3 linked regions of the Homo sapiens genome follow. The gene in region 2 interacts genetically with the main gene of each other region. Each region holds a gene or a part of one and is shown on either strand. Other genes may lie near its edges.

Region 1 (10,133 bases), on a different chromosome or scaffold from region 2:
AGCTACTCGGGAGGCTGAGGCAGGAGAACCACTTGAACCCAGGAGGTGGAGGTTGCAGTGAGCTGAGATCGTGCCACTGCACTCCAGCCTGGGTGACAGAGCAAGACTCTGTCTAAAAAAAAAAAAAAAGTCTCATACTTAAATCCTGCGTCTGACAACCATATGAGTTTCTGGCAAGATTTAAACTTTCAAAGGCACAATTTTCTTATTGGCTAGATAAGAATAACAATTTTCACCTTGCCAGTTTGTAGTGAAGATTTCAGATAATGAATATAAAGGAACTGGTATAGACCATGGCCCATAGTAGGTGCTCAATAAATACCTTTATAAAGAAACAAACACATTGCAATTCTGATATGACGGCTGCCTTCTTATTTAGAAGACTATTCTGCTTGGTTTTTTTTTTTATTCTAATTTCTTTGGATTTATAAGCATCCCCCACAGCTCTTTCAAACCAAGGATCTTCACAGATAACAGTGTCTAGGGAATCTTTCTCTGTTCTCCTAAAACAAGCACTTATTTTTAATGATGGTCTTATATTCTATAAAAATATTAAAATAACATCTTCATATGTAGTATTATATATGAGGGAAAGAGACATTTGAGCCAGTGTTCACACTTGACCATGTTCACACTTTTAACCAGGTAGAGACTCGTGACTTTGACTCTTATTTTGGCCTTTACTCAGGCTCTGACTGCAGATAAGAATCAGTTTTGCCTAAATTTCAATTGCTTGGGAAAGGTCCTCGATAACGGAAGTCTACATAGAATTGTGAATAAATACCCCTGTGAAAATAAAGGTTAAGTCTATATGTTTACTTGATAAAGCAGATAATTTCAGAGTATAAACACAGTTGTGTTTTGACTTCTCTTCCTTTTGCCTTAAATATAGATATTTATTTGTGTGTGTGTGTATGTGTGTGTATTTATATATATATAAAGTTGCCCACTGTGATCCACCACTGCTGGAGCAAATCCAGAACTAGAACTTGGTCTCCTGGCCTTCAGCCCAGAGCTCATTACAGTCTCATTCTAAAAACAAGTACTTCATACTGATTGCATTTCTACACACACATATGCAGATTTCTGGACACTCTTTCTGTTTTTCTTTCATTTATGTTCTCAATGCTGAACCTTTATTAGAATTACATCATCACTGTGGTTCTTTAAATAAGAAACAAAACTCTGTCACAACATCTGAGGAAATTATCTTTTAATGTCCCCAAGCTCTATGCCTTGGAAAAAAAAAACTTCCTCTGCTGTTCAAGAATAACAGGCCCCAGAACAAGCCCCAAAAATAAATGACAAAGCCCATCTTACTCACAGGAGGAAAGGATCATGGTAGCCCCTTCTGCGGGGAGCACACAACAGTCTTCAGTTCTTCTGCGGTGCTCTACTCACAAAAACACATCTTTCAACTGAAATCATAGTTCGCTCAAGATGTTTCTCACGGGCAGAGTTAACCCCACCTATTTTCCTGTTCTGAAAACCTCAGAAGAGTATAAATGACAACCAATGGCATATATAAGAAAGCTCAGTAATCTCCATCCCAATCTCTGAGGGTATCTGCTATTAGTCTCTCATCCCCAAAGGTGTGGGTGACTCGCAAACATCATTTTCAAGAAATCACAAAATTTTGGTAAAAGGCACCTTTAAAATTATCAAATCAAACTGCCCTCTCTGGACTGGGAAGGAAATGAAGGCACAGACAGAATAAGGGACTTGCCCAAGGCCACACCGTGAGTGGCAGAAACAATTAGATTCTAGGCTCTGGAATATTGAGTTTAGAATGTTCCATCCTCCCACTCAGCAGACACTTTATTTGGGGGAAGTCAATCTAGTAATAACCCTAAAATGTGATTGGGGGATGGCTGAGAAATATAAAAACACCAACAATACAAAACACACTTGGGAGTTTCACTTCATCCCACTGGAAAGCATAACCATGTGTCAACTAATTAACAGAGCAACTTTAATGAAGACACAGCATATTCTAATCGCCCTTCCAATTTCCTGGTTTAGATTAAGGTCTCCTTAGCATTCTGGGTGATGACTGTTATTTTTACTTCACCTTTTGCCTTTGTTATGCTTTCGTATAAAACTTTTTTTCTAAGTCTTAGTGAAAAATATTTAAAGATTTTTGAAGGAAATGTTGACAAATGTTGCCAGGTGCTATCTATCTTGTTTTCCCATAAAAAGCATACACTGACCATTAGGACAGGGACTCTATCTTCTCCTCACTCTCTTTCATACCACCTAGTACTTCCCGTAGCTCCTCAAGGTGAAAAGGGAAGTATGGGATGGGAGGAGGGAAGGTCAGGAAGGAAGGAGAAAAGGCTGACAGTGATAGTAAGGTAGAGTGTGCCAGGACCGACTCCTTCAATGAGCTACAAGTCAGTTAAAAGTTGTGCATGGTTAGCAACCAAAATGCCCATCAATGATAGGCTGGATAAAGAAAATGTGGTACATATACACCGTGGAATATTATGCAGCTATACAGAATGAAATCATGTCCTTTGCAGGGACATGGATGGAACTGGAAGCCGTTATCCTTAGCAAAGTAATGCAGGAACAGAAAACCAAACACCACATGTTCTCACTTATAAGTGGGAACTGAACCATGAAACACATGGACACAGGGAGGGGAACAACACATACTGGGGCCTGTTGGGGAGGGCAGATGAGGGGAGAGCATCAGGAAAAATAGCTAATGCATGCCAGGCTAATATCAGGAAATATATATATCAGGCTAATATCAGGAAAAATAGCTAATGCATACCTAGGTGATGAGTTTTTGATAGGTGCAGCAAACCACCATGGCACACGTTCACCTATGTAACAAAACTGCACATCCTGCACATGTACCCTGGAATGTAAAAAAAAAGTTGTGCCTGTTTTTGTGATGGGGGTACAGTTAAACAGGTAGACAAGAAGGAATGTGGCAGATTGTGATAAGGCTCGGGATAAGCAGTTTACTTTCTTCCATTATGAGGGGCACAGGAAAAGAATAAACACAGCCTTCAGTGGATGGACTGCCTGGTGCACAGACTCTAGACTGACCAGGATGAAATGAAATGGTTCTCCAGGGTCAGAGTGAAGGCGCTGCCCAGAGCAGCCAGCCTGTGTGTTCACCCAATGCTCCAGAGCAGACCATCGTGGCCTGCAGAGGAGACGCAACTCCTGAAGGGAAGGCGCTGTGTCTTCCTCGGCTAGTTACCCCACCAACAGCAAGAATAACGTGTTGGGCAATAAACGGTCTCTGGATGACTGATACAGTTTCTTTTCGCTGGCGCTCACGTGACCGAGATAGTTTCTTTTCCTTGGCGCTCACAAGGCAAAAAGGAAGGCCCTAATTCCGTTGATGTCTTAGTAGAGCTTCTAAGGGTGAGAAATCCACACACACAGTCTTGACAGCAGGGTCTCCTGAGAGGCTGTACAACAATCCCACCATCCAGGAACCCAAGTCCAACCAGGCCTCCTGAAAAACGTCCGGGAGGCACGGAACACCATGCTGGCTGCTTCTCTCCGTAGCTTCCTGGATCCTCCGCCACAGCTCAGGCTGCTTCCGGGTCCTATGTGAGGTGGGGGCAAACTTTGTTGCGAAGGTCACCTGATCCTTCTGCCCCAGAGCTCAGCACTTCCAATTATAGTGTCTGTGTCCCAGGGAATATTCTTAAGGCTTAGAAGTAGATTACCCGGTTTAATTTTCCATCTGATTCTGATTAGCTGCGGCCACCATGGGCAGGATTACATAGGCCAAATGCACGTGGTTAAGCTGGACAGGCATCCCCAGACACATTTACCTGAGTGAGGAGGGGGCGTTACTCATAGAAGAATCTAGACTTTCTTCTCTTCAGGCATATTTGATGTTCAGGGGGAAATGAATTAACAGCTATAAGGCACAGTCTCTAGTCCTAAGAAGGTGAACTCCTATACTACAGGATTAAAAGTTTCAATTAAAAGACAATTCGTGTTTCTCATAAATATATAACTTTATATATTATATATATTTACAATATATACAGCATACAAATATTGTTCATGTAATACTAAGAGCAGTCTTGAAAACTGAGATGTTTTCAAAACAAAAGATAGGTATTTATTTATCCAAGATGGGTTCCTGATGTATCTAGAACCCAATTGTAGACAATGTCTCAGGCCCAGATTTCTGTAGAAGTCAAAGGGAAAAAGAAGGGTTGCTTGGTCATGACTCTAATACCCTTCCCCTTCCCAAATACCCTGGCCTTCAACTGGCATCAGCTAACATGGTCCCATGTGTGCACCCCTGAATGGCCAAACCCTGGGGCTACACACAGTGCCTGGTAAACAACTGTCACTCAAGTGCCTGAGGAATGAATAGAAATGAGTGATTTTAATCACCATTTCTAAGGCAACATTTCCACACTCTGGGAGATTCTGTCTAGAAGCAAGTCTAGACAGAGGCTGGTCTAGAAGCAAATTATTTATGTGTTTCCACTGTATAAGTAAAATGATCTACATGTCCAAGTGCTCAATAAATTAAAAGCCACAAAATGCCCATCCTTCCTTGTGCTTGGGAATCTGGGAGCCACTGGTCACACATCACTTATCTTCCAAAAGTTTCTTCACATTCAACTAGTTCATCTATTGTGCGCAGCAGATCTTCGAAAGAAGGCCTTCCCTCTGGTTTCTACAATTAAAAGTCAAAGAGAAGCTGTGGGTTCCAGAATCCATTCCACAAAACCTCTCACTGCTCCAACTCCTAAACACAGCATATTACAGAGAGACTTCACTGCTTTGGGACTAGGACATACAGGCATCTCCAAAGGGGTCTTGTCTCTACCCTAATTTACCCTGCATGTACTGCTGCTAGGCTAACGTTTCTAAGACACTGCTTTCATGTCTCTCTTCAAGACCCTGATAGATCTTTTTACTGCCTGTGAAATCAAGTCCTGCAAATTTGTAGGAGCCTCTATAATCTGCCACTTCCCGACCCTCTTGTTACCCAATCTTGTTCCCCACAAAATCCCTCACATGGGCTGTCTGTTAAATAGGGCCACTGTCTCCACTGTTGTGCACACTGTGTTTATAACCACCTCCTTACCTTTGCTCAAGCTGTTCTCTCTCCCTTTAGCACCACTTCCTGCCCAGAATGTCTCTGCCCATCCCAATCAATGCTCTTGGGAGGCAGTACAGCAAGTGGTTGAGACTCTGGGCTTTGGAATCAGACAGGCCTATACTGTTCTGTAGCTAAGTGACCCCAGGCAAGCAGCAACCTCATGACCCTTAATCTTCTCATCTACAGAGTGGCTACAGTCAAAGTATCTCCACCTCAAAGTGTTGTTTTGAGAACTAAATCCAAAACACTAAGTATAGTGCCTGGTACATAATACATGTGAGCTAATGTTACTGTCTTTCAGAAGTCATTTGGTATCTAATCTCTTTTAGGAGGTAACATTTCAATACTTTCAAAGACCTCGGAAAGTTGAGGTTTAGAGAAAGAAACCAACTCTGGTAAAAAAATAATACTTCAACTCTACAAGTGAACCAATGAAAAAAGAGCTACTTATCCAGGCTTATTCCCCAAGTCCCTATCTCAGGCAACCATGGAAGGAGTCCCACTTGGAAGTGAGGAAGCAGCCTGAATGTATCGAGGTAGTTATTAGCATTTTCCACATCTTTACATTCTTCTTCCCGTTATTCAGAACTTGAGTTGAGAGGGTTGGCTTCCTACCTAGAGCTTGAAATCACTATAAAGATGCACCACCTCACTAGGCTATAAAGACTGCATGTTATCCATCTACCAAGCCCAATCCCTAAGAGATTCAAAAAGAAAGCACACAAAAAATCTATACCTCCTGCCAACATCTCAGCATCACCTCATACACATAGTTGGACGCCAACTTCGGCTGGTAGAGTCGGTGGCCTCGAGTAACCATGGTTACCACTTCATAATTGGTGTATTTTTCAAAAGGCATTCTGCCTTCCGTGAATACTTCCCACATTAAAACACCTGGAAAAGGATAAGGATTACCAAATGGATGTATCCACTTTCTCCTCAGGGCGGACGGACATGAGGAAACATGGATCTTACCAAATGACCAGACATCTGATTTGCTGCTGAAGCGGCTGTAATTAAACACTTCAGGTGGACACCACTTCACAGGAAACTTAGCACCAGAAGAACTTGTGTACTGATCATCCAGAACATACCTAGAGTAAGACACACCATGGGTTTACACCTCTGAAGAACAATCTGTTTTTTCTACTTGCTCTTTCATTTTTTTCCCCTTGCAATCAAAAACACAGTTGACTGAAGTCCAACAAGCATCCGGTTGAAGCTAAATGTTCACCTCAGTGGCCACACCTGGTGATTTCCAACTTCCTCTCAGCTTAATTTAAGTGCATGAGATGGATCCATCACCACGTTACCATCTGCACTTTCATTTTTCTGTTTTTCTTTCTTTTTATAAGGCAGTAGAGACAAGGTATCATAAAATAGTTTGCAAGCTTTTCTTTGTAAGCAATTTTGTTCTTTAAATAAAATTTTACCCAAAGGCCCCATATGTAAAAAATCTAAAGCAGAGCTGCTCCAGAGGAAGTGGTATAAAGCATCTAGAAACACACAGGCTTTCAGGCCTCCAATTCCACAGAGCACAATTTAAAACTACAGCATATGAAAATAGCAAATGCAAAAAAACAAAAACAAAAACACAACACAAAATGCCACATGTAAATGGTGGAGTATGTATTTATACATAACATCCCCACATACATACATACACTCAAAACAATACTATATAATTTTTCTATGTGAACATACAATGTCCTTCTGGAAGAACATACAAAAACTGGTAACAGTAGCTAACTTTAGGGGAGAATCCTTGATTAGGGTTGGTAGATGAAAAGACTTCAGCCCTTTCTGTAAGGTGGGCAGCACATATTTACAAAAGGAATGTATCTCTGTATTGTGTGTGAATATACCATTAATTTCTAAAAGGTTCCATGAGAAAATTTTCGAAGAATTGCACAAACATCCTTTGCTATGTAGACAAAGATGGTGACTCGGCACAAAGCCAGCTGCTGGCTGGCAGACAATGCCACTGTGGGCTGGATCAAACTGTCAGCCAGTGGAGTCTGAATTTAGGGTATAAAGAGGTTTTTGAGTGGTTGATACAAAAGTGCAGATTTTCTGAAAGCCTAACATATGAAGATTGAACAGATGAAAGCGGCAGACAGCCTGTCAAATATATAGTATCTGTATATAAAAGCAAATAAAGAGCATTGGGTAATTAATATCCTAAGAGTTGGAAGTTCTGGTCCCATTTCTGACAGTAACAGTTTTCTAATCTCCCTGGGCCTGAGTTTCCTTAGGAGTTAAACTTGGCCCTACATGGCCTGGTCTTTGCCTGCATTTATGAGCATTCCTGGCGCTGCCCGTTGGCCAGCTACCCTGGCGCTTTTTCCGTTCCTTGAGCAGGCCAGACGTGTCCCAGACTTCAAGCTTTTTCACTTTTTCTTCCTACCTGAAATAGTTTATCCTTTTATTTTCACCTACACTGGCTACTTCCTACCTTTTCGTCTCCAGTCAAATCTGCCTATCACAAAGAGGTCATCCTGAACATCAGATCAAGTAGCCACCCTCACTCTTGCCCTGCATCATCATTCAGCACCACCCCAAATTATCTCTATTACAGGGATCAGTCAACTTTTATGTAAAGGGCCAGATAACACATATTTCAGATCTGGCAGGCCATACAGTCCCCGTGACAACTACTTGACTCTGCATCTGTAGCAGGAAAGCAGTCACAGGTAACACCTAAATGAATGAGCGAGGCTGTGTCTCAATCACGCTATTTTTATGGACAGCAACATTGGAATTTCAGATTTTTTTTTACATGTCATAATATTCTTTTCATTTTTTTCATCCATTTAAAAATGTGAAACCCAAATGAGGTTTGGGTCAGACTGACAGCCACAGTTTACCAGTATCGACCATGCTCGATCATGTAACTTTATCAGGTCTTCTGATTCACCCTCTTCCTCAATGTAAGCTGCATGCGGGCAAGGACTTGTAGGTCTTATTCTCTATATGGTTCAGCTTATCATTATGCCTGGCACAGAGCAGGCACCTGATTTTTTATGGGTGGATGTATGGATGAATGAATGGATAGACGGAGGGAGAAGAGAGAAAAAATAAACTAAATACCTTTAAAAGGTATTTTATAATACTATTAAATTATAAAAATTAAGAGAAGAAAAACACTGCAGACATGGACATACTAAGAACCTCACCACCAAATATGTTTTTGTGAAAACAAAAGATTCTAGAAATCTAATCCACACCAGGAAATACAGTGTATTTAACAGGCTATACTACCACCTAGTGGAGAGAATTACTACCATCACAATATATACTTAATTTAATCTGAGAACCAGTTAACAAGATTTCCTTTCTGCTTCATCAGTGCAAATTATTCCCACACTTATTAATTCCACCAAAAAAATGCAAACATCACCTAAAACCACGTATACTTGGACATACCTGGCCATTCCAAAATCAGATACTTTTACAACTCCCGCCTCACTTACTAGACAATTTCTGGCAGCCTGGAAAACAACATTATGATGGTATATTAGTTTAAAAATTCTATCATTTAAGTAGGAAAATGTAAGTTCTATTTATATTAAATTTAGTGTAACCTAGTCAACATTTGCAGAGAGTGGAAACACCCTTTAATAAGTTGTTTTTACCCCTATGGAAGTATTTCCATTGTGTATTTGAAAAAAATGAATAGGCAGGTCAGAAAGTTGTATTTGCAATAAGGCATTATTACATAATCTTTACCAATTGTCTTTTTTTTTTCTTTTCTTTCTTTTTTTTTTTTTTGAGACAGAGTCTGCCTCTGTCGCCCAGGCTGGAAGTGCAGTGGCACAATCTTGGCTCACTGCAACCTCCACCTTCCAGTTTCAAGTGATTCTTCTGCCCCAGCCTCCAGAGTAGCTGGGATTACAGGCACCCACCACCACAGCCAGCTAATTATTGTATTTGTTGGCCAGGCTGGTCTTGAACTCCTGACCTCATCCATCTGCCTCGGCCTCCCCCATTGTTAGGATTATAGTCACGAGCAACCTCACCGGCCAACTGTCATTCTTAAACAAGGGCTAATAGAAGGGTCAACTCACTTTTCTCCTTCCCAGACCTGTTCTTATTAAACTATCCAATTTTCTTACTGACAATGAGAACATCTCTTGAAGTCCTTAATCCGGTTCTCACTAGGTGAGCTTAATAACACACAACCATCAAAATGATGGGCGACCAATCTCTTATCCAATATTTCTGCTCAGTGATTGGTCATCTCATCCCAGTCAAAGAACAGGCTGGGTGCAGTGGCTCACGCCTGCAATCCCAACATTTTGGGAGGCTAAGGCGGGTGGATAACTTGAGGTCAGGAGTTCGGGACCAGCCTGGCCAACATGACAAAACCCCTTCTCTACTAAAAATACAAAAAAAATTAGCCAAGTGTGGTGGCACACAACTGTAGTACCAGCTACCTAGGACTGGAGGCAGGAGAATTGCTTGAACCCATGAGGTGGAGGTTGCAGTGAGCAGAGATCGCGCCACTGCACTCCAGCCTGGGTGACAGAGCAAGACTCCGTCTCAAAAAGAACAGCTATGTGTAAATACAGTTTGCTTTTTCATTTATGTTCCCAGTATATTATAACATGATGTACAAAATTGGTCAAATACAATTGTGGATTATTTAATTTATATTTTCTTGCATGTTCTTCAAGGTTACAAGGTTTAAGAAAATAGTTTGATAGAAAGACGTGGTATTTCTCAAAAGGAAGACAAGAATTTTTTTTTAATTTTTTAATTTTTTATTTTTGAAACTGAGTCTCGCTCTGTCACCAGGCTGGAGTCCAGTGGTGCGACCTTGGCTCACTGCAACCTCCACCTCCTGGGTTCAAGTGATTCTTCTGCCTCAGCCTCCCGAGTAGCTGGGACTACAGGCGTCTGCCACCACGCCTGGCTAATTTTTTTTGTATTTTTAGTAGAGACAGGGTTTCACCATGTTTGCCAGGATGGTCTCGATCTCTTGACTTCGTGATCCGCCCGCCTCGGCCTCCAAAAGTGCTGGCATTACAGGCGT
Region 2 (11,577 bases):
GTATATGACGTTCAGTGATATTCACTGACTGAAATTTTATGCACACTGAGTTCCAGCATACTCTGATCCACCTGTAAACTTTCATCATCAACAGCAGATTTGTATATGTCACAAAACTCTCCTTATCAAGACATAAAATATTGCCATATCATTCATGCTTTCAAAACAATGTTCATATAAGCTCTCGCATTTGAAACCAGATGGTAAGACCTGAATGCTACAAGAGTGAACATAACTTAAATGCTAACTACACGTTCAAGTACAGACATAAGAATGCTAGTGGTACAAACACTGTACTCCAAATGATGTTGTTAATCACCTACCAGCCTAAGACTAGTATCTACTTGATGGAACTTGAAAAAGCCATAAAGTCCAACTTGTTTAAAATGTTCAGACTTAGACTTACACTTCAAGATCTAGTATACATTTATTAATAAGCCCTAACCTCGTACCATAAAAAAATGGGCATGTGCTGTATTTGGGACATGCGGACACACCCACACCCACCCACAATCTCTCCCCTCCTCATGTTTACTAGACTGAAAAGCCACCCTGTATCCTATCATTAAAAAACAAAACAAAACAAAACAAAACAGTGCTTTTAGTCAAGCAGCACAACACAAGGACAGATCATCTGTGATTAACAGAAGCGAACGCCTTAAAATGATGGGAGAGAGACAAATTAACTAGGTACTAAGTCAGATTTCCAAGTGAAAAAGACATGAGCAAAACTTCTGGTCTTAATTTCTCAAATAAAACTAAAATAAATGAAATGGTAACAGAGTGACTTTCTCTAAATTTATTAGGGAGTTTGTTACAAATGTTTGGGCTTTACAGGCATGATTTCACGGATTCAAACAAGAAATTAACACTGATATTTAGCCTTCTCATGACATACACAGAAATAACATTGCTACAAACTGCAATGGAGAGAATCTTGTTTCAAATGGCTTAGTTTGGGGTTTTGTCTAAATGTATCATTATATAATGAAAGCACCAATTTGAGGGTTTCTCAAATAGTGATTTGAATTTTAGGACATAACAGTGTAACATGGTAACTTTATTCTTCATATATAAATAAGGCATAATCGGATGTGTATTAATGCTGAAAATACATTTTATCAAAAGCATAAATACAAGTATTTGGGTACACATTGAAAGTTAGGACTTAACCAATTTCTTCTTACAAAAAATGATAAGGACATATGGTATTTGTTGAATCTAAATCAGCACTTCTAATCATTTCTGGTATTAAGGCGATCTTATTTCCTTCTACTTTAAACCAACCACTGCCACCAACTGAATAAGGATTTCCCTAAACAGCCTCAATTTGAGAGACTAACCAGAGGACCTTCTCTATGCAAATTACATGCCAATACACCTTAAAAGAAAATAAGACAAAAGTGAATGAGTTTTTTCATTCCATATTGCTTTCTTTGGTTGCAGAGCAATCCAGTGCCCTTTCCAGATAATAAAATTGAAATGAAGATTTCAATTTAATATTTGGCAGACAGCAACAATGCAGGTTATTAAAAATATTAAAGGGGCAGAGGCATGCTTTGAATTACTCAGATTTTCAGAAAACATTTGACAAAACCCTTTCTCTATAAAAGTTATGGTCTAAATTTATGTTGTTTTATAAGGCAACTGTATATACATTTCTTCAAGGTCAATGAAGACACTTGTGTGATATTTCCTCAGAATTAAATGAGAAGGCATTCAGATTTAAGAACAGAATGTAACACAGGATTAGGCACATTTTATTCCAAATCATAACCATAAAGATTTAGAAAATCAAATACATCAAAGAACTTTAAATCTAAATTACTTTTTTAGAGACTGGGGTAAGTTTGCATAGTGAAATTATGAGCACCTTTTCAATTCTGTTCACTAAATTTCATCTCTCTCTTCATATAGTGGTATTTCAAAAGGATTCAGTTTTCATGATACAGGTGTAAGACTCCTTTCAAACGTTTTTAAAATACAACGTATAAAAAAATGTGGACTGAAGCCTTTAGATTGAACTTAAAGTTCTACTGAATGTCAAAACAAGCCTAAGTTGAATATAAGTAATTCATTGCCTCAAAATATAGTCTAGATTTTAAAAGAATGTTGATTCTGAGACATTACATGCAGCAGGGAAGAAAACTGCAAATGCCCAAAATAACATGATATCTATTTGGTGTTTCAACACTTCTTGGTGGTAATTCAAAAGGGGGAAACTTGGTGATTTCTGCTTTGTCAGGCAATATCTATGGTTCGTATCACAGATCTTAACTATGACTTAAGTAAGATGAAGTGTCCTCTTTCTATAGGGATCTAACTTGAGCCCTCACTGGAGTCAAATGTTTTGGCCATTCAATTTGCTAAATGTATGGGTAAACTCTCCAATGAATAGTCCAAATGTTACTGTGCACATATTCCGATATTCATTAGCACTGCAATTATGCTAATTTTGTGAATTTAAACAATGTATTCTTTTTGGCAAGAAGCACTAGATGTAGAACTATTCAAACACGCATGAATGATACCATGATACCACGAACATGCACGATACCATGAACTTGCATCACGGTGCCGGGCTACGTATGTGTAGCTCATGGATTACCATGGCATGAAAATGCTAGAAGTTATATGGATACAATGATAGTGGAAGTTCAAATGTGAGAAAAGTCAGGTATGTCAAGAACAATCCCTGGTTAGTTCACTGAAAAGCCCCACTCTCGTATCAGACAGCAAGACAGAACAACAGCCACTGACTTGGAAAGGCTGGGTGATCCATAACGACCAATCTTTCAAGGACCAATAAAATACCTGAGTACACAGTCAGCTATACAGTAAAATGACAGATATCACAGTCTTAAAATTTTCAGGAAAAGTAGAAAAGCTGTCAGACTTTTCAAGCTGTCGCCAGCCTTGGACTTCTGTTTCTCTAATTGTAGCACTACATACAGCCTAGAAGATAGTATTTCAGTACTGCAAACCAGCCATTCTGATGAGTTCACTATGAATGTATCTGCGATCACAAAGCTACTTCGTGGACACATTTTAATTTGGTAAGCAGTCGGGGGAGGTCAATGTAATCATCTTTAGGTGCGAACTAAAAAAATTACTACTGATCCTTAGAAGCATCCTTAAAACATTTAAAATATACCTCAAAAAAGCTGGACTTTCAACAACAACAATTATACAAATGTATACATACTGTATCTGTTAGAGACACACCAAGAATGAACAGGAATCTCAAATAATGCCTTCTTGAATAGTCTTGACAGAAAAATACTGCCCTTAGCAAACTCCAAATAAACAAAACGATGCCACAAATGGCACAGTGTGGAGTTGATGGGACTGGACAGGACAGCAAAAGATAGATGTTTGTGATGATACAACAATGATTTCCTACAGTAAGGATTGGTCTTTACTGACCAACTGAGATAGGGCTTAAAAGTCAAATACATGACATTCTGGAACAGGTTAAGTTTATTTAGAAAGTTCTGTTACCAAGTTGCTTGCAGTTTTTAGTTGCTGCTATGGCCAGAATGTTTCACATATGGTACATTAAACTACATGATAATTAAATATGAGAAAGGCAAATTCTATTTCACTCGTTACGTTTGACCAAAACACGGTAAACAGCATTAGCTTGCCTTTTGCTCTCCCATACCACCTGTGAACTCTTCATCAGCATCAGACCAAAGATCCTTATGTAAACTTGAAAACAGGAAGAACATTACCTTCAGAAACACAGAAATCTAAAAGCAAAACAGCTGTTGTGTATACAAGCAATTAAAATATGAAGGCTAAACCTTCTATAAACCTACAGAATGCCATTTCTTAGATAGAACTTCTAACAGCCCTTACAAAATAGGAGGTCACCATAAAGTTAGGCAACAAGTGTCACTGCTATATGTAAGGCGGACAGAAGATATCTTGTTTTGGAACTGAATATTCCTAACCTCATCCCTACAAGTATTTAAGGACACCTTTGATACTTGGCACTGCAGGAGAATTCAGTTTGGAAAGTAGAATAATTTAAAGCCTGAAATATGCCTAGTCTGAGGTCAGCTGGGAGGTTTTAACTGGACTTGAATAGAAGCCATGGTGAAACAGATCAAAGCCTGCATTACAGCAAATCTTGGCGATGAGTCACTCAACAGCTTTCAGCCACAAACCAAAGGCCGCAGAAAAAGTACTAAGATTTTCAAGAAGTTAAACGTAGAATTAAGATTGTTCTAATTCTGGTTGTAAACTGCTATTTTAAAAAACAAAACAAACAGAAAACATCAAAAACACAAAAAGATATTAAAACAGCAAGTCTTTTGTACATCACTGTAGCATAAGCTGCTTGAGGTTGTCATGCAGAATAGTATCCTTCACGTCACGGAAAACAAGGCGGATGTTCTCCGTGTTGATAGCAGTGGTGAAGTGGTGGTATAAGGGCTTCTGTTGCTGGTCCCGGCGTTTGTTCCGGAAACATTCCACCAGGAATTTTTGGACGTCTCTTAAGCAGTGGGGATCCCCTTCAAATTCTAGGAAATAGTCTTTGATGCTCACAATTTGCACCTTCTCCTCAAGCAAGTCTGTCTTGTTTAAGAACAGAATTATGGAGACATTGCTGAAAACCCGGTTATTGACGATTGTTTCAAAAATGTTCAGAGACTCTGTAAGGCGATTGGTCAGTCGATCTTCCATAAGCACCTGGTCAAATTCACTTGAGGAAACAAGGAAAAGTATTGATGTCACACTGTCGAAACATTCAAACCAACGTTTCCTTTCTGATCTCTGACCACCTACATCAACCATTTTGAAAGGAACATTTTTTATTTCAAAGTCGTATTCATGGATGCCTTTGGTGGGTCTTCTGGCAAGCAGAATATCTTGTTGTGATGGAATATAATCCTGGAAAAGAAAAAACTTGTTTTATACCTATTAATCCCGAAGTAATGCGAATTTTTAATGGACTACTAACTGGACTAGTGAATAGATATGCAAACAAAATGATCTTTTAAGTGACATTTTCAGATAGATTATGCTTATTATAAAATGCCAAGACTGGTCAGACATGGTGGGTCATGCCTATAATCCCAGCACTTTGGGAGGCTGAGGCAGGAGGATCGCTTGCGAAGCCAGGAGTTTGAGAATATCCTGGGCAATATAGCAAGACCCACTTGTGCTCCCCACAACAAAAGCCAAGATACATTAAAATGTTAGCAGGACGGGTTCAAAATTTACTACAAATGGCCAGAATCTACTTGTTTTCATCCCTGCAATACTACTCAAAATTTAAGCTGAAGTCTTATCAATTGTTCTTACCCACCCTCACTGCTATATATCCACCTGCAATCTTACTCCCCACTATCAGCCACTCTTGGTTCTAGCCAGAGTGATCTTCCTGTCTGCGTATCTACCTTCTCCACACTGCTCCTTGCTCCTCTATTAAAAGCAATGGGGGCTGGGCGCGATGGCTCACGCTTGTAATTCCAGCACTTTGGGAGGCCGAGACGGGCAGATCACGAGGTCAGGAGATTGAGACCATCCTGGCTAACACAGTGAAACCCCATCTCTACTAAAAATACAAAAAAATTAGCCAGGTGTGGTGGCGGGCGCCTGTAGTCCCAGCTACTTGGGAGGCTGAGGCAGGAGAGTGGTGTGAACCCAGGAGGTGGAGCTTGCAGTGAGCTGAGATCATGCCACTGCACTCCAGCCTGGGTGACAGAGCAAGACTTTGTCTTAAAAAAAAAAAAAAAAAAAAAAAAGGCAATGGGATCTGATTCCAGTGCCAATTCACAAGGATCACTTCCCAGTTCCAAGTTCTGCCCACCTCTCTCTAACCTATTCTAAAAGTTCTTTTACTGTGCAACCCCACTCATGACTTAAAACTTCTATGTTTTCATTGCTGCTATATTACATGTGTGAAAAATCCTTTCTCTACTATAATTAATTTCTTACTTATTGACCCAAGAACTCAAACTAGTCACTTACTCTGAGTGTCAGCACCTCTGTCTGTGAAATGGAGGTGATCACACTTGGTCTATATACCTGGGAGGGAGGGTTGTTGCAAGGATCAAATGAGCTCTTCTCTGCACTCTTGGTCAGTGAACTCTAAGACCCTGAACAAACAGAAGCTGCTGGTCACACAAGTCTCTGGCTACTCTGTGATGGCACACTTCCTTATGCAATGTAACTGGTTCTTCCTTGTCAGTCTAGCATTTTTCCAAAACTACAACACAACTTTCTGGTAATACATGAACGGGACAGCTAATATTTATCATCAAGGTCAAAATATTTTAAAAATCAAGGCAGGATTTAAAACAATGCTGTTATTCACAATGCTGCACTTTATGCCTTTCTGAATAGTGTCATATGATTTTGAAATTTCATTACAAGAATACTCATTGTCTCAAAATGGTGCAATGGAATTAAGAATATATATATATACATATTTTTTTGAGATGGAGTCTTGCTCTGTTGCCCAGATTGGAGTGCAGTGGCGGAATCTCGGCTCACTGCAACCTGCGCCTCCCAGGTTCAAGCGATTCTGCTCCTCAGCCTCCCGAATAGCTGGGATTACAGGTGTGCACCACCACGGCCGGCTACTTCTTTGTATTTCTAGTAAAGACGGGGTTTCACCATTTTGGCCAGGCTGGTCTCGAACTCCTGACCTCAAGTGATCCTCCCGCCTCAGCCTCCCAATGTGCTCGGATTATAGGCGTGAGCCACTGCACCCGGCCAGAATTCAGAGTTTTTTAAAAGTAGGTGGGTTCTTAGTTACTGGCAACCAACAGCCATTCATTAAATAACTCTAGGACTCAAGTGTTAGCTTTTCCATGTTTTCTTCTAGCTTTGTTCAGATACACGCCTGCTTTATTTATAATCAGCATATGCACACAGCGTTCAGCCTACCTCTGCATTTTTGCTTAATATTTTGTGAACTGTTCCATATGCTGATACAATCATACCTCATTTTAAAAGACAAGAAAATACACCAAATGCATTAACGTGCTGTACTTTACATTAACATTCCCCTACTAGTGGTCATTAAGGTTGTTTCCAATTTTTAGCCATAATTAACAGAAATACTGCAATTAAAATTCTCATGCACATTTTTTTTTTCCTTTGGACTATTTCCTAAGATTAAAATAATCAGGGGTACGATTATGACGTTAAAGGTTACAAACATTTTAATGACTCTGGATACTTAACACCCGACTGCTTTCTAGAAGGCAATACCAATTTACAACATACACCTATGCCAGCTCCTTCAGAAACACGCCGGGCCCTGAGCTTTTAAAAAATGTAATTCCATAAAAATAAAAAGTTCTCTATTATTGTCTTTGTCTCTATTAAAGCTAATAATCTAGTTAGCAATCTAAAGGCTGCTTCACATGAAGCACAGAACTTCATGCAATCGAGTGCTAAATAGTCTGGCAGAGCAGAGTATGTTGATGAGGACACACACATACTAGCTGTGTGAAGAAGAAGAAACCTGCCTTATGAGGAGGCAAATGAAGCTGTGCTACATTTAGAGAGTAACAGATGACTCTAAGGCAATGGCTTTCAAAATTTTCCTAAGCAGCAGAAACCTTTCTCCCACTGAACTCTTCTGTGTACGCCCAATACAGAGGTCAAACAAGCGAGATGCTCTGCCTGCAGTGGGCCCCGCTGGCCACAGCGCCAGCTTAGAGCTGCTGGCTCCGAGGAATACCTACAGGAAAATGATAGACTCTCTTTTCAAGGGCGACTCCCCCTACCTCGTGGAGTCTCTTCAGCCTTTTAAATCTAGCCCTCCTACTCCGTGACTCGACACAAAGGGGGCATGAATTCGAAAATGTCATTTGTCAAAAGATTTGGAAATCAGTCAACCCACTGTGTTCTATTTCTGTTTACAAACAAAAACCTCTAAAGATACTAAAGTATAACAGATAATGCACAATATCATCTTCAAACACAAACTTCTTTCTCTAAACAGTTTTACTTCCAAGAAATAGCAGACAAAGCATTCCTCAAGAAAATGGTAGAGACCTGGACAGTTAGAGGGAGAAAAAAGAAGTGTCGTGATTAAACAATAAAAATACTTTCATTTTGAAAAAATAAAAATCATTCAATATTCTGAGCTACCAATCACTCTAAATAAAGCAGAGAAGAATCAGAACGCCACCACTAAAAAAAAAAAAAAAAAAAAAAAAAAAAAAAAAAAAAAAAAAAAAAAGAGAGAAAGAAGCAAATAGCTTAATACATAATTTTTCTAAATTTCCTAACATCGATATCCTGACTTCTGCTTTCAAATGGCACTAAACATAAACATTTGGTTTAAACACTTACTGGTTCTCCAAGTTTATCCAAGTTATCCAGGAAATATTTTACAGATTCACCCTAAAAACAAGAAGAAAACAAATAGTTATTAGGGCTTAGAAATGGAAGATCTTGTTACAACAGTTTACATCATACTGTCTGGTTGTACACTTAACCCAAACAGACTTTGTTTAGTCACCAATTTCAGACAGCTAACCTTCCTAAAAACATATAAAACGTCTGCTCTGTCACAGACTGCTAAATCTGCAAAGGCAGGCTGATTTCACAAATGCTTAATAGAATCAATATCCCAAGTGATCATCTGCTTGGACAGGATTACACGCATGCTTTTTGCTATAACTACGTATCCACAGTGAAGACATATAATTAGAAGATGAAAACTGCTTTTGAGATAAAACATAAATCTACATATAAAATTTAAGTGACAGTCTTTTTGTCTACATTTTCTAGCTTAATAGTGACGATAGTTATCTTCAGAGACAAACCAAACCAGAGATGAGGTAAGAATACTGTACAAAATCCCCCAACCACAGGCATGGACAGGCGTGCCTTGCTCAGGAAGGCCCTGGATAGTGCTGCCAGCTTCACATCTCCAACAGGTCTTTTCCCGAGTGGCCTATCCTTTCTGAGCCCAGTTTTCTCGACGAAACTTCCAAGCAATTTCAAACATCTAAACTGTACGAGAATACATTCCTAACATGAAAACGCTTGACCAGAGCACACAGAGAAGAGGGGAACTATTTTGGGAAAGAAGGGGTCTGTGTCCGAGTCTCCTAGTCCTCACCCCCTGCGTTTCACTTTCCCGCGGGATTCTACAGCTGCAGCATTGTCCCTGCCTGAAGCTACTTCCAAGTGTTCCTGAAGCAGCACCTCATTTAGTATGCCTGGGCATCATGTGAAGATCTCCTCACACTGCAGGCTCCGGTTTAGTAGGTCTGGGTGGGACCCCAGTTTCTGCAATTCAAGGAGTGCCTGGGACCACACTTTGAGTCACAAAGCTTGAAAGTAGCAGTTCTATAATTTTTTGGTCTCAAGATCACACAATATGATCCAGCAATGGCACTGCTAGGTATATACCCAAAAGAAAGGAAATGAGTATATGGAGGAGAGAGATATCTGCACCCCCACGTTTACTGCTGCACTCTTCACAAAAGCCAAGATTTGGAAGCAGCCTAAGTGTCCATCAACAGATGAATGGGTAAAGAAAATGTGATACACATACAGAATGGTGTCCTATTTAGCTATAAAAAAGAATGAGATTCAGTCATTTGCAACAACATATATGGAAGTGTAGGTCACTATGTTAAGTGAAGTAAGACAGACACAAAAAGACAAACATTGCATGCTATCACTTATTGGTAGGAGCTAAAAATCAAAGCAATTGAACCCATGGAGATAGAAAGAAGGATGGTTACCAAAGGCTGGGAAGGGCAGCAAGGGTTGGGGTGGCAGGAGGTGGGGACGGCTAATAGGTACAAAAGATAGTTAAAGTGAATGAATATGGACCAGTATTTGATAGCACAACAGGGTGACTATAGTCACTAATAATTTAAGTGTACATTTAGAAATAACCAAAAGAGTATAATTGGATTGTTTGTAACATAAAGGATAAATGCCTGAAGGGAGAGATACCCTATCTTCCATGAGTGATTATTACGCATTGCATGCCTCTATCAAAACAGCTCATGTACGCCAGAAATATATGAATCTATTATGTGCCCACAAAAATTAAAAACAGAAAAATTAAAAAAATAAAAACGGAAGACATGGAAACAAATGATGATGTCTCTGGACTCAATAAGCTCAACAGCTTCTGATCACTTCTTTTTGTGTTTAGTGTCCTCATTCAAATTTTATACAAAGCTCAGTACGAGGCAACTGGTATCCTCTCCTCCTACCTTCCTAAAGTGTCTGGCAGATAAAATATGAATTACTGGGAGGAAGTTACCCTTCAATATTTTTTTCTTAACAATTTCAGAAGTGATCAAAGTCTTCTTGTTTTCTAATATTAATGTTAAGGAACAGATGTGAATTTCAGTCCTTTCTCTAACAAGGAGTGATCTGGCCAAGTCTCTAAACTCCTCCAGGTCTCCATTTCCCCCAGAGTTACATGAAGAAGTTCAGTGGTTCAATGGATAACCAACCGCTTAAGTTCTGCCCTGTGCAACAATTTCAGTTAGTTCCACTGATTTCAAGTTAAGTTCTCCTTTCCTCATAGGCCATGTGTTTGTTAATCCTAAATCTGCTTTTGTTGTGACTCATTCAAGCGGTGTTGCTTCCACGTTCTTTGCTAATAAATAAAGGATTTAATGTATTGTGCAAGAATATTATGGGTTTAAGACTCACTTTTTGCTGGTTGTAACTTGAGGCTCTCATATTTTTCCCAGTTCATTTTATGTTACTGAAGGGAATTTTTTTTTTTTTTGAGACAGGGTCTCAATCTGTTGCCCAGGCTGGGGTGCAATGGCGCGATCTTGGCTCAATACAACCTCCACCTCCCGGGTTCAAGCCATTCTCCTGCCTCAGCCTCTGGGGTAGCTGGGATTACAGGTGTGTGCCTCCGCGCCTGGCTAATTTTTGTATTTTTAGTAGAGACAGGGTTTCCCCATGTTGGCCAGGCTGGTCTTGAACTCCTGACCTCAGGTGATCCACCCGTCTCGGCCTCCCAAAGTGCTGGGATTATAGGTGTGAGCCACCATGACCGGCCTGGAAATTTTAAAAATAAAATTTCAAAGAAATTTCATTTCACAGTTAACACTTTAAAAACTTAAGATTATTTTATTCGGCCCTTAGCTCTTTTTTCTCTGTTCAGAACACTACAGGTAAGTTTCTAGGTTACTGTAGTAAGGCTGAAGAGTAAAAGTAGCATGGCACTCTGAAAAGTGTTCCAATATTTCTTTAGCCTTGTGGATATTTCAGTTCCATTTAAATGGCATAGCAGCCAGTGTACCTGGGTTCCAGCCCCAAGATAGACTTTATTACTGACAAAGTCAACAAACAATATTAGGTGAGCTTCAGTGACCCTTTGAGTATTAGAAGTCTATGAGGTTCCACGAACCATATTTCTTACGAGTTTTACAAAATGGTGTCTAAGCTGGGAATGGCTTCAATGTTGCCCCCACTTCACAACAATAATTTGTTATAAACATCCTTTGCTTGTAAAGACAAAATGGGTCTGGAGTCCTAAGCTTGAAGGTAACAGAAAAGCTAAGAACAAAAGTTAGAAAATAATTTCTATTAAATTCATAGTCATACAGAGAGAGG
Region 3 (8,602 bases), on a different chromosome or scaffold from region 2:
TTTTTTCTTCCCACTAATGAAATTTTTAATGATGAAGTTAATATTTTTGAAATTTGGGGGCTTGTACCTGTAATGTAAAAAGGGCTTCTTTTCTGTTTTCTGAAGTTTTTGTTTTGTTTTGTTTCATTACGTTTGAATAAAAAACCTATGGGTTTTATTTCACAGAAGGTGGAGGAAAGTTACACCATTCTTTGCCAAAGGCTGGCTGGATCAGCCCTCACAGACAAGCACTCAGGTATGTAAAAGTTATGAGTTCCAGACTCTAGACTAATCATCCTACACTGAATGAAATGACTTATCATACTTTGAAGTGAAAACCTTCTGAGATTCCATTTCTCTTCTGTCTTTAAAGAACTGCCTGTTTCTAAACATCAGATATCAAGCGGAAGCTCATGCCTGCTGACTCTACTCTTCTCTAAGAGGAACTGCAGTTGTCAGTTCCCATACCATCCCCTCTTCTCTCTCTTTTCACCTTTTCAAAGCAGAAGGCAGAGCAGTGGGAAGCCTGGTAAATCACAGATTCGGTGTGAGGCTTACTGGTACTGCTGTGACTCCCTAGTGTGGAGGATTTGGCCTTATTGGATGTTGGTGCACTTGCCTCTGCTGACAGTGTGGCTGGTGTCTCCCCTGACTGCAGATGGATTTGTGTTCCCTGCAGCAGTTTATACTCATCTGCTTACATACTGATTCAGAAACAAAGATTGAACCACGCCCACAGATGTCATGGGTATTCTTTGCAATGTTAGTATATTCTTTTTCTTAATATCATTTCCATGTATCTTTATTCTTCTCAGATAAAAGTTAGAGCCGCATGTCCTGGAGGTGACTGCAGGTTGTTGGATTTGGAGTATCGGCCGTGTCTCACCACATCCTGGCTCCAGTGTGGATGCAGAGAGAGTGTGACAGAGGATCTGCCTGTGAACCACCTGGGATTAGTCAAGTCCCAAGGTGCCCAGAGTGGGACTAGTTCTTCACAGTGTGGCAGCTGCACTAATCTGTTTGTGAGGGAATATCCATTCCCTCACTCTACTCTCCTCACTATCGGAAATTCATTTTGATTCAGAATAAAAACCAAATGTATAGAGCTTTGGGTGTAGGATATGAAATTGTACTTAGATTTAAGAAAAAGAGAAAATCAGATGTATTTATTTGACTTCATTCCGTATTTGAAAGCACATTTTAATTTTTATTTGCCTTGTTTTGTTTTAATTGAGTAGTGAGAGTTTTAGACCTTTGTCTTTAGTACACCCAAGGATCAACTGCTCCTGAAGCAAAGAGGTCAGGATGGAGTATGCAGAAGTTGGGTAGAGAGGTTAAGAAGAGGAGGAAGTGAGACGGGGAAGGGAGGAGCACCTTGCTTCACTATACAGTATTCCAAGCTCTCTGCTGTCCAGTAGGCTGCTTCTCTGAGGGTCACCTCAAAGGTATGCTATGCCGTGTGGCTCTTATGTGCCCAGGTGGTGTGGTCAGAGAGTGGATGGGCTTCCTCCCGCCCTGAGGCAAGCACCTCTTCTCTGTAGCTGGGATCAACCACAATTAATAGGAATCCTCAACATACTAAATAGCAGGCACTTGAAAATGGGTGTGTTTTCTTCCATTGTCGTCTTTTCTATTGAGGGTTGGGATTTGGGTGGGAGAGGAAAGCAAATTTTATTTTCTTGACTATAAATTTGTTATTCTTGGTATCATTTCATTTTTATAATTATACATTAGACATTGGCACTTGTGTAAAACTGTCCCTGCAGATTGAGCAGGAAGTAAAAACAAATGGAAATGCTTCGGATAGTGGCAGGGGTGGGGGTTGCTAAGGAAAGGGTGGGATGGGAGTGGGTAAAGAGTTTGGGAAGGTTATCTAACTGAATCACTACTGAGTTGAATCATGGCTATCATTAGCCACAGGTACTGCTGATTATAAGGCCAGTAAAATTTTAGTACCTGGAGGTTTGACTCTAATTTTTGCACTGATGGTGCCAAAGGGCCCTGAGTCAAAAGGATAGCCAAGGGTGGAGTGGAAAAAGATATGGTGAAGGCAGAACTGCTCACACCAGCTCCAGAAGCACGTCCTCTGACTTCACTGCCGCAGCTCTTTCCACACGGGGCCGTGATTGACCCTAAAAATTGCAGACCAGCACATACACTGGACACTGCAGGCAAGGTGTTGGTAACTGCCTGCTCTAGGATGAATAGTAGCGTTAGCAGCACCCTACAGAGGGTAAGTTTCAGAATTGTAATTTGAGAACTCCTTCAATTATATTGACTTTCTTTGGTTTTCCTTGTGCATTAGGTATATATTTTTTGAAGTATTTTTGCCAACTAAAATGAAGTCTGTAAATTCTGTTAATAAACAAGGAGTTCATCCGTTGCTCACATCTTTCATTGGTGCCCTCTGAACTCTGTGGGTTGCTAGGATGTAATTTTAATGCTTCCCTGCAGTCCAAAGATGATTTTTTCACCACAAATGGTAAGGGATGCCCACCTACTTTTATAAACACCACTGCAACTTAACAAGTTTATTTATCTATGTCCAGATTTCTGTTTCTGTCCTAAATTGATCTGTGTTTTTAGGTGGATCAACTTGGATCTTTAGACCTCATCTATAAATTGAAATTATATTTTTAGTCATAAGCCAAGTACAATCTAACTCAGAATGGGATTAAAAATTTTAGAAGCAGAAGCTAATATATAAATGAAGTTTGGGATTTGGAACTTTCTGTATCTCTTAGGAGGAACAAGTAAAAACCAAATGGTTACATTGTGCTGCTAGAAATAATGTCATTCTCAATTAAAAGGGTTACACCTGTAGCCACTTGACACTAACACCATCGAGGGCAATTAATCAGGAGAAAAGTAAATATAAAAACTTTGCTCTTAACGTCACACACTACAGGGTAATTATGTAATTCTCTAGCACTCAATTAAGAAGCTTGTAGGTTAGCAAAATTTCAGTTTCTCTAGTTCAGCCAGTGTCTTGTCCTTAGTAATTATTTGCTTTCCCTGCAGTTCAATTTCTCCTTGGAACTCTAACAGGACTAACTGGAAAAATACTTTGACCATAGCTCTAGTACTTCCAAATAAATTCATATCTAGATTTTCAAACAAAGCCCCAAGATGAAGTCTAATTCTGAAAATATCTCACAATTTTTGAATGTTCTTTTTATCTTACCGACCTAACTTCTCTTTTCCCTCCCAACTTGGCCTCCCACACGTTCCATTTCATTTTGGCCATTATAGTCACATCCGTTTGACTTTGGTTGTGACATCTTCCTTTCAGGATGATGGAATTAGATGCAGTCTGTCTTTGAGTGAGACTGGTCACCATCAGAGGAGTTTTTTCTAAGTGACGTGACTAGAAGTTGAAATCTACTTCCCTGCTAAAGGGCACAGGGGTGGTGTACAAAGAAAGCTACCTTCCCAGAGCAAGCAGGCTGCATTTTAGCTATGGAAGTGACCTGCTGTGACACTGTGCTCTCTTCTGTGGGCTTAATGGTTCCTTTGCTATGAAGTGGCAAATTACATGTAGAGTGTCTCCTTCCTTTTCAGAGAACAGTTAATCAAGGCAAATCAGCAAGCCCCCAAAGTGCTGTAATTTAACATCATGATTACCACCTTCGAAGCTATATATTTTGCATACTTTAAAATCACCTAACTTGGACTGCTTGAATTACATTGGCTTTTAGAACCGAAATTGTAACTATGTATTGTATTTCATGGGAGGTATATTTTATGAGCTTTTTGGCTTTCTTTTTTCCCACAGCAACTGCCAATGAAGGATGAATCCCCTTTTTAAAAAGTTGTTGTTGTTGTTGTTTATTTGATTTTGAGTTAGGAGGGATAATAGAGAAGTCCATTTAAAAATTATTTTTAGAAGCTAAAGAAAGTAATTATGCTTCCTGTGAATTGTCTTTTACTGGCATCTTTGTTTTCCTCTTTGATGTTAGTAAATTTGGTGTAATACGTGGGGCTTCCATATTTCAAAGTGGAAGCTTTCTTCTCTGAAGTCGATATATGGTTTTGAATTACTAGAGCTTTGGTCAGTATTTCCTTCCCTATATGTCACAGAGGGCACCACTGAGAACTGCGTGCATAGGACCTCAAAATACAAAATTAGCAGGGCCTCACAGTCAGCTTCCTCATGGCTAGTTTTTCCCCCTTATATTACAATTTTTGTTTTATAAGTCATTTTTTTCCTGATATTTCCACCACTTTTCAGAGTCATCTACAAAATTTTTCTTTCCTCAAGAAAAGAGTTCCTTTTGCCTTATTCCTTATGCCTTCCCCACTGGTATTGAGGGTTTTGATAATAAATTGGTAGGAAAAAAAAGTACCTCCTAGAAGGAAGCCTTCCCCACCATTTCCAGGTGCCAACTGCTAAGCAGATATATTCCAAAAATGGTAACTGTCATGTGCACACTGTTGGTTATTTTTAATAAGCCTCTTCCTACTAGAACATTTTATTTTCCTTGTTCACCATACAATCATGTACTCTTTAACAGAAATTGCTTTTAAAAAATATCTGGAACTATCTTTAAAAAAACTTTATTAATAATCATGTATTTTTACTGATCACATTTTGAAATGCCTAAAAGACTTTATTGTTCTAATTATCCAGATGTACCTTTGTAAAATAGCTCTTTTATGAATTAGCTGATAAGGCTGTATGTTTCTGGAACAAAATATTGGTCATCTAAAAACTTTCTGTTTTCTGGGGTCTGGGAAAATAGAAAATAAGATTTCAAATATTAAATAAGCTTAAAGGAACCAAGCATGTGACTTTTTATTTGTATTCTGGTTGATTTGTCTTGTCCAAGTTATATTAGAAAAGTTGAGGAGTCGAGGAGCCTGTAATTAATTTTCCTGTCAGTGACTGTCAGACATCTTCCTGCTTATTAGAGCATCCCTAGCAACAAGGCTAAACCTTCATGACAGTGCTGGCAGGTGGGCTTGCCCTAGCATGTGGGGCAGGTTTGTTGTTTTTTTAATAGCTTTATTGAGATATTCACATATCATATAATTCATCCATTTAAAGTGTATAATCAGATGGGTTTTGGTATATTATTGATTTTTAATTGTGGTGAAATATATATATAACAAAATTTGCTATTGTAACTATTTTTAAGTATAAAGTTCAGTGAGGTAGGCCAGCTTTTATGACGCACCTGAAGATAACTTTGGTTTTAATCCTACCCTAAATGAAGCATATGCCTCTATTTTTCCTGTCCCCAGTGCTGGGCTTCTTCACATACCAACATTTCTGTGCTTTTACCAACAGCATTTTAGCTCAGAAGGCTCGCTTACTTTGGGCATTTGCTGTATTTTGGTTTTGAAATACTTGTAATTTGACTTATTCTTGGGATAATATTTTAGTTTTCAGTCATTCAAGGGCACATTTGGCTGACGGAGCTAATAAGCGTAATAAAATGCTTAGTAGTTTATACCATCTTTTAGTTAAACATTTTAAAGATTAAGACTATTCAAATGTACTTTGCGGAAATTAACCTGTTTGTATGCCTGGCTTTGTTTACAAACATATATCTATATCTATATATATAGATACAGATACAGATACATATCTGGTGGAACAAAGAAATACCTGTACCATTCCCACTTGCTCTTTGATAGCCACCTCCTAGGAATGGAGACAATAAAACTCTGTATTTGCATGTGAGCAGTTACTTCTATTTTTTACTGCCCTCTTTCAAGCTAAATGACTGGTTTACCAAAGGTTTATTACCAACTTCAAATATAAGAGGATCTATCCTGATTAAAAAGTTGCTTTTTAATTGAACTCGTTATCTCCTTGATGTTTTATGACAAATGTCATAAAGCATGAGAGATAAGTAGCTGGATGTAGGTGTTTCCCATTTTCTCTATAATGTCAAGGATAATTCTTGTTACTAATTGGAAACACTTCCTCAACTTTAGCTGTCAGGGAATATGTTTGTTTTGCCACTTATTTTTACTAGTGAGACATCATCATTCCCTTAGCATCAGCAGAGGCCTTGGTTTGAGATCATTTAAGGTATGTAGAGCTCTCTTTCTAGATTTTCCCCCTCAATTGATTAGAGTGCTTTTGGACCGACCTGTAATTTAAGGCATTTTATTTTAAGGGATCTTTTTCTTTGTACGTGTGATCAGAGGGTTGTGGCTGCCTGAACACATGCTAATCAAAAACACTAATTAGGATACATTTTGGTAATCTTTTAAAAACTTTCAGGGAGGCATCTGTACAAAGACTTTTTTTCTGCTATCATTATTTTAAATATTAAAGGCAAATAGCATGACATAATGCAACACTTTTCAATCTTTTTGATCTCACGACCACTTTTTAAAAAATGTATATCTTTTTTTGTGTGTTGTTCTTGTTGTTGTTGTTGTTTGAGACAGGGTCTTGCTCTGTCGCCCAGGCTGGAGTGCAGTGGCACTAACGTGGCTCATGCCGCCTCAACCTCCTAGACTCAAGTGACCCTCCCTCCTCAGCCTCCCAAGTATCTGGGATCAAAGGTGTGAACCACCAGGCCTGGCTAATTTTTTTTTATTTTTTGTAGAGATGACATTTCTCCATGTTGCCCAGGCTGGTTTCAAACTCCTGGGCTCAAGCAAGCCTCACCCTCCCAAAGTGGTGGGATTACAAGTATGAGCCACCACACCTGGCCAGGACCACTGGACACTCTTAAAAATGATGAAAGACTTCATGGAGAAGCTTGTATTCATGTGGATTATAGCTATCAATTGTTACTGTATTAGACATTTAAAAGAAAATAGAAATGAGGAAAATGAATTTATTTAAAAATAGTAAACCCAAATACATGTGAACATAAATCACATTTTTATGAAAAGATCACTATTTTCCACAATTAAAAATTGAGGTTTATGTAGTTTTTGAGATCTCTTTAATGTCTGGCATAATAGAATACAGCTGGATTCTCATGTATGCTTCTGCACAATCTTTTGTGATTTTTTTTTCTTTTTTTTTGAGACGGAGTCTTGCTCTGTCACCCAGGCTGGAGTGCAGTGGTGCCATCTCAGCTCAGTGCAACCTCCACTGCCGGGGTTCAAGCGATTATCCTGCCTCCCGCATGAAATGGGGTTTTGCCATGTTGGCCAGGCTTGTCTCGAACTCCTGACCTCAGGTGAGCCACTGTGTCCGGCCCTGTTGTGGTATGTTGAAGTATATAAAGAAAATCCAGGTTCACACGGATACATATTTTTAAATGGAGAAATATTGGAATAGCCTTTTCAGATAATTATGGATATTCTTCTTTGATACTGTACAAAATTTGGCAAGTGATAGTTCCTTCAAAGATAGCTGCAGTGTGGAATCTGAAATCCTATCAAGGAAGTTTTTGTACTCTGTTAAACTAAAAATCCACTGATCCGTTTTACACTTTATTTATGTGAAGAGTGGTAACTTTTACCCATGCATGATTTTGTAATATCCTGTATTGGTCATTTGGAAAATACTGGTTTACTGAATTATGCAGTTCTTCCAAATATTGACACATTTCTTTATATAAATATCAAGTCACATTTGTTAATATCACAACTGATATCAGAAAAGTCCCATGGTAAATGCAAATTTCACAAAATTCTAATGTTTCCTTGGAATCTTGAATTTTATCATTGGCAACAAATACAGTTTTCCTTGAAATGACAGCCTCACTTTTTTTAATTTTTGAGTGAGAAGATACCTGCCAAATATTCAAGTCTGAATGGCGATTGCTTACCAGTCATTCTTTCATGTTAAAATGGTCTTCCTCCATTTAAAAAAAAAAAAAAAGTTGGGCACGGTGGCTCACACTTGTAATCCCAGCACTTTGGGAGGCCAAGGCGGGCCGATTACGAGGTCAGGAGATCAAGACCATCCTGGCCAACATGTTGAAACCCCATCTCTACTAAAATACAAAAAATTAGCCGAGCATGGTGGCGTGCGCCTGTAGTCCCAGCTACTCAGGAGGCTGAGGCAGGGGAATTGCTTGAACTCGGGAGGTGGAGGTTGCAGTGAGCCAAGATCGCGCCACTGCACTCCAGCCTGGTGACAGAGTGAGACTCCATCTCAAAAAAAAAAGTAGCTAGTACCTTTCCTTCAGCCACAACCATGGTACTTTGTTATGTGGCAGGGTTGCTTGATGCATACTTACCTTTTTTTCCTCACACAAAATATTAAAAAGATGTGTACTCAAGGGTTGAGATTTCATAAAATTATTAAAATTTACTGCTTCGTCAAGGACATTCTTAAGTGCAACTGGCAGTGTCTATTGCAAGTCAGCAGCAGTAACAGATACAGTGTTAATGAAATTTGGTACAACAACTTTGATTCCTGCCAAGTCACCAGCAGCTTCACCCTCTATTGATTTTGCACCATCAGTGCAATTGTCAACATGCTGAAAAGGTACGTGGTGTCTCAGTAGTTTTATGAAAAGTTTTGGGGTTTGGGTTTTTTTTGTTTTTGGGTTTTTTTTTGTTTTTTTTTTTTTTTTTTTTTTTTTGCAGTCTGTCTCTGTTCTTGCTCTGTCATCCAGGCTGAAGTGCAGTGGTGCAGTTATAGCTCACTACAGCCTCAAACTCCTGGGCTCAAGGGATCCTGCCGCCCTGCCTCACCCTC

Evidence for each region.
Region 1: of GNA13 (region 2) and TEC, changing one enhances a phenotype caused by changing the other (phenotypic enhancement), as found in Homo sapiens cells (one study listed by BioGRID).
Region 3: of GNA13 (region 2) and ARHGEF12, changing one enhances a phenotype caused by changing the other (phenotypic enhancement), as found in Homo sapiens cells (one study listed by BioGRID).

The regions. Positions count from the first base shown.
Region 1 is NC_000004.12:48,132,831-48,142,963, forward strand, and holds the end of TEC (tyrosine-protein kinase Tec), read right to left. Parts: intron 8,590-10,133; coding exon 8,525-8,589; intron 6,193-8,524; coding exon 6,074-6,192; intron 5,993-6,073; coding exon 5,835-5,992; intron 4,670-5,834; coding exon 4,586-4,669; 3' UTR 2,953-4,585; downstream 1-2,952.
Region 2 is NC_000017.11:65,009,931-65,021,507, forward strand, and holds part of GNA13 (guanine nucleotide-binding protein subunit alpha-13), read right to left. Parts: intron 8,374-11,577; coding exon 8,323-8,373; intron 4,900-8,322; coding exon 4,327-4,899; 3' UTR 1-4,326. UniProt on the Homo sapiens protein: Guanine nucleotide-binding proteins (G proteins) are involved as modulators or transducers in various transmembrane signaling systems.
Region 3 is NC_000011.10:120,484,273-120,492,874, forward strand, and holds the end of ARHGEF12 (rho guanine nucleotide exchange factor 12), read left to right. Parts: intron 1-165; coding exon 166-235; intron 236-794; coding exon 795-805; 3' UTR 806-5,665; downstream 5,666-8,602. UniProt on the Homo sapiens protein: May play a role in the regulation of RhoA GTPase by guanine nucleotide-binding alpha-12 (GNA12) and alpha-13 (GNA13). Acts as guanine nucleotide exchange factor (GEF) for RhoA GTPase and may act as GTPase-activating protein (GAP) for GNA12 and GNA13.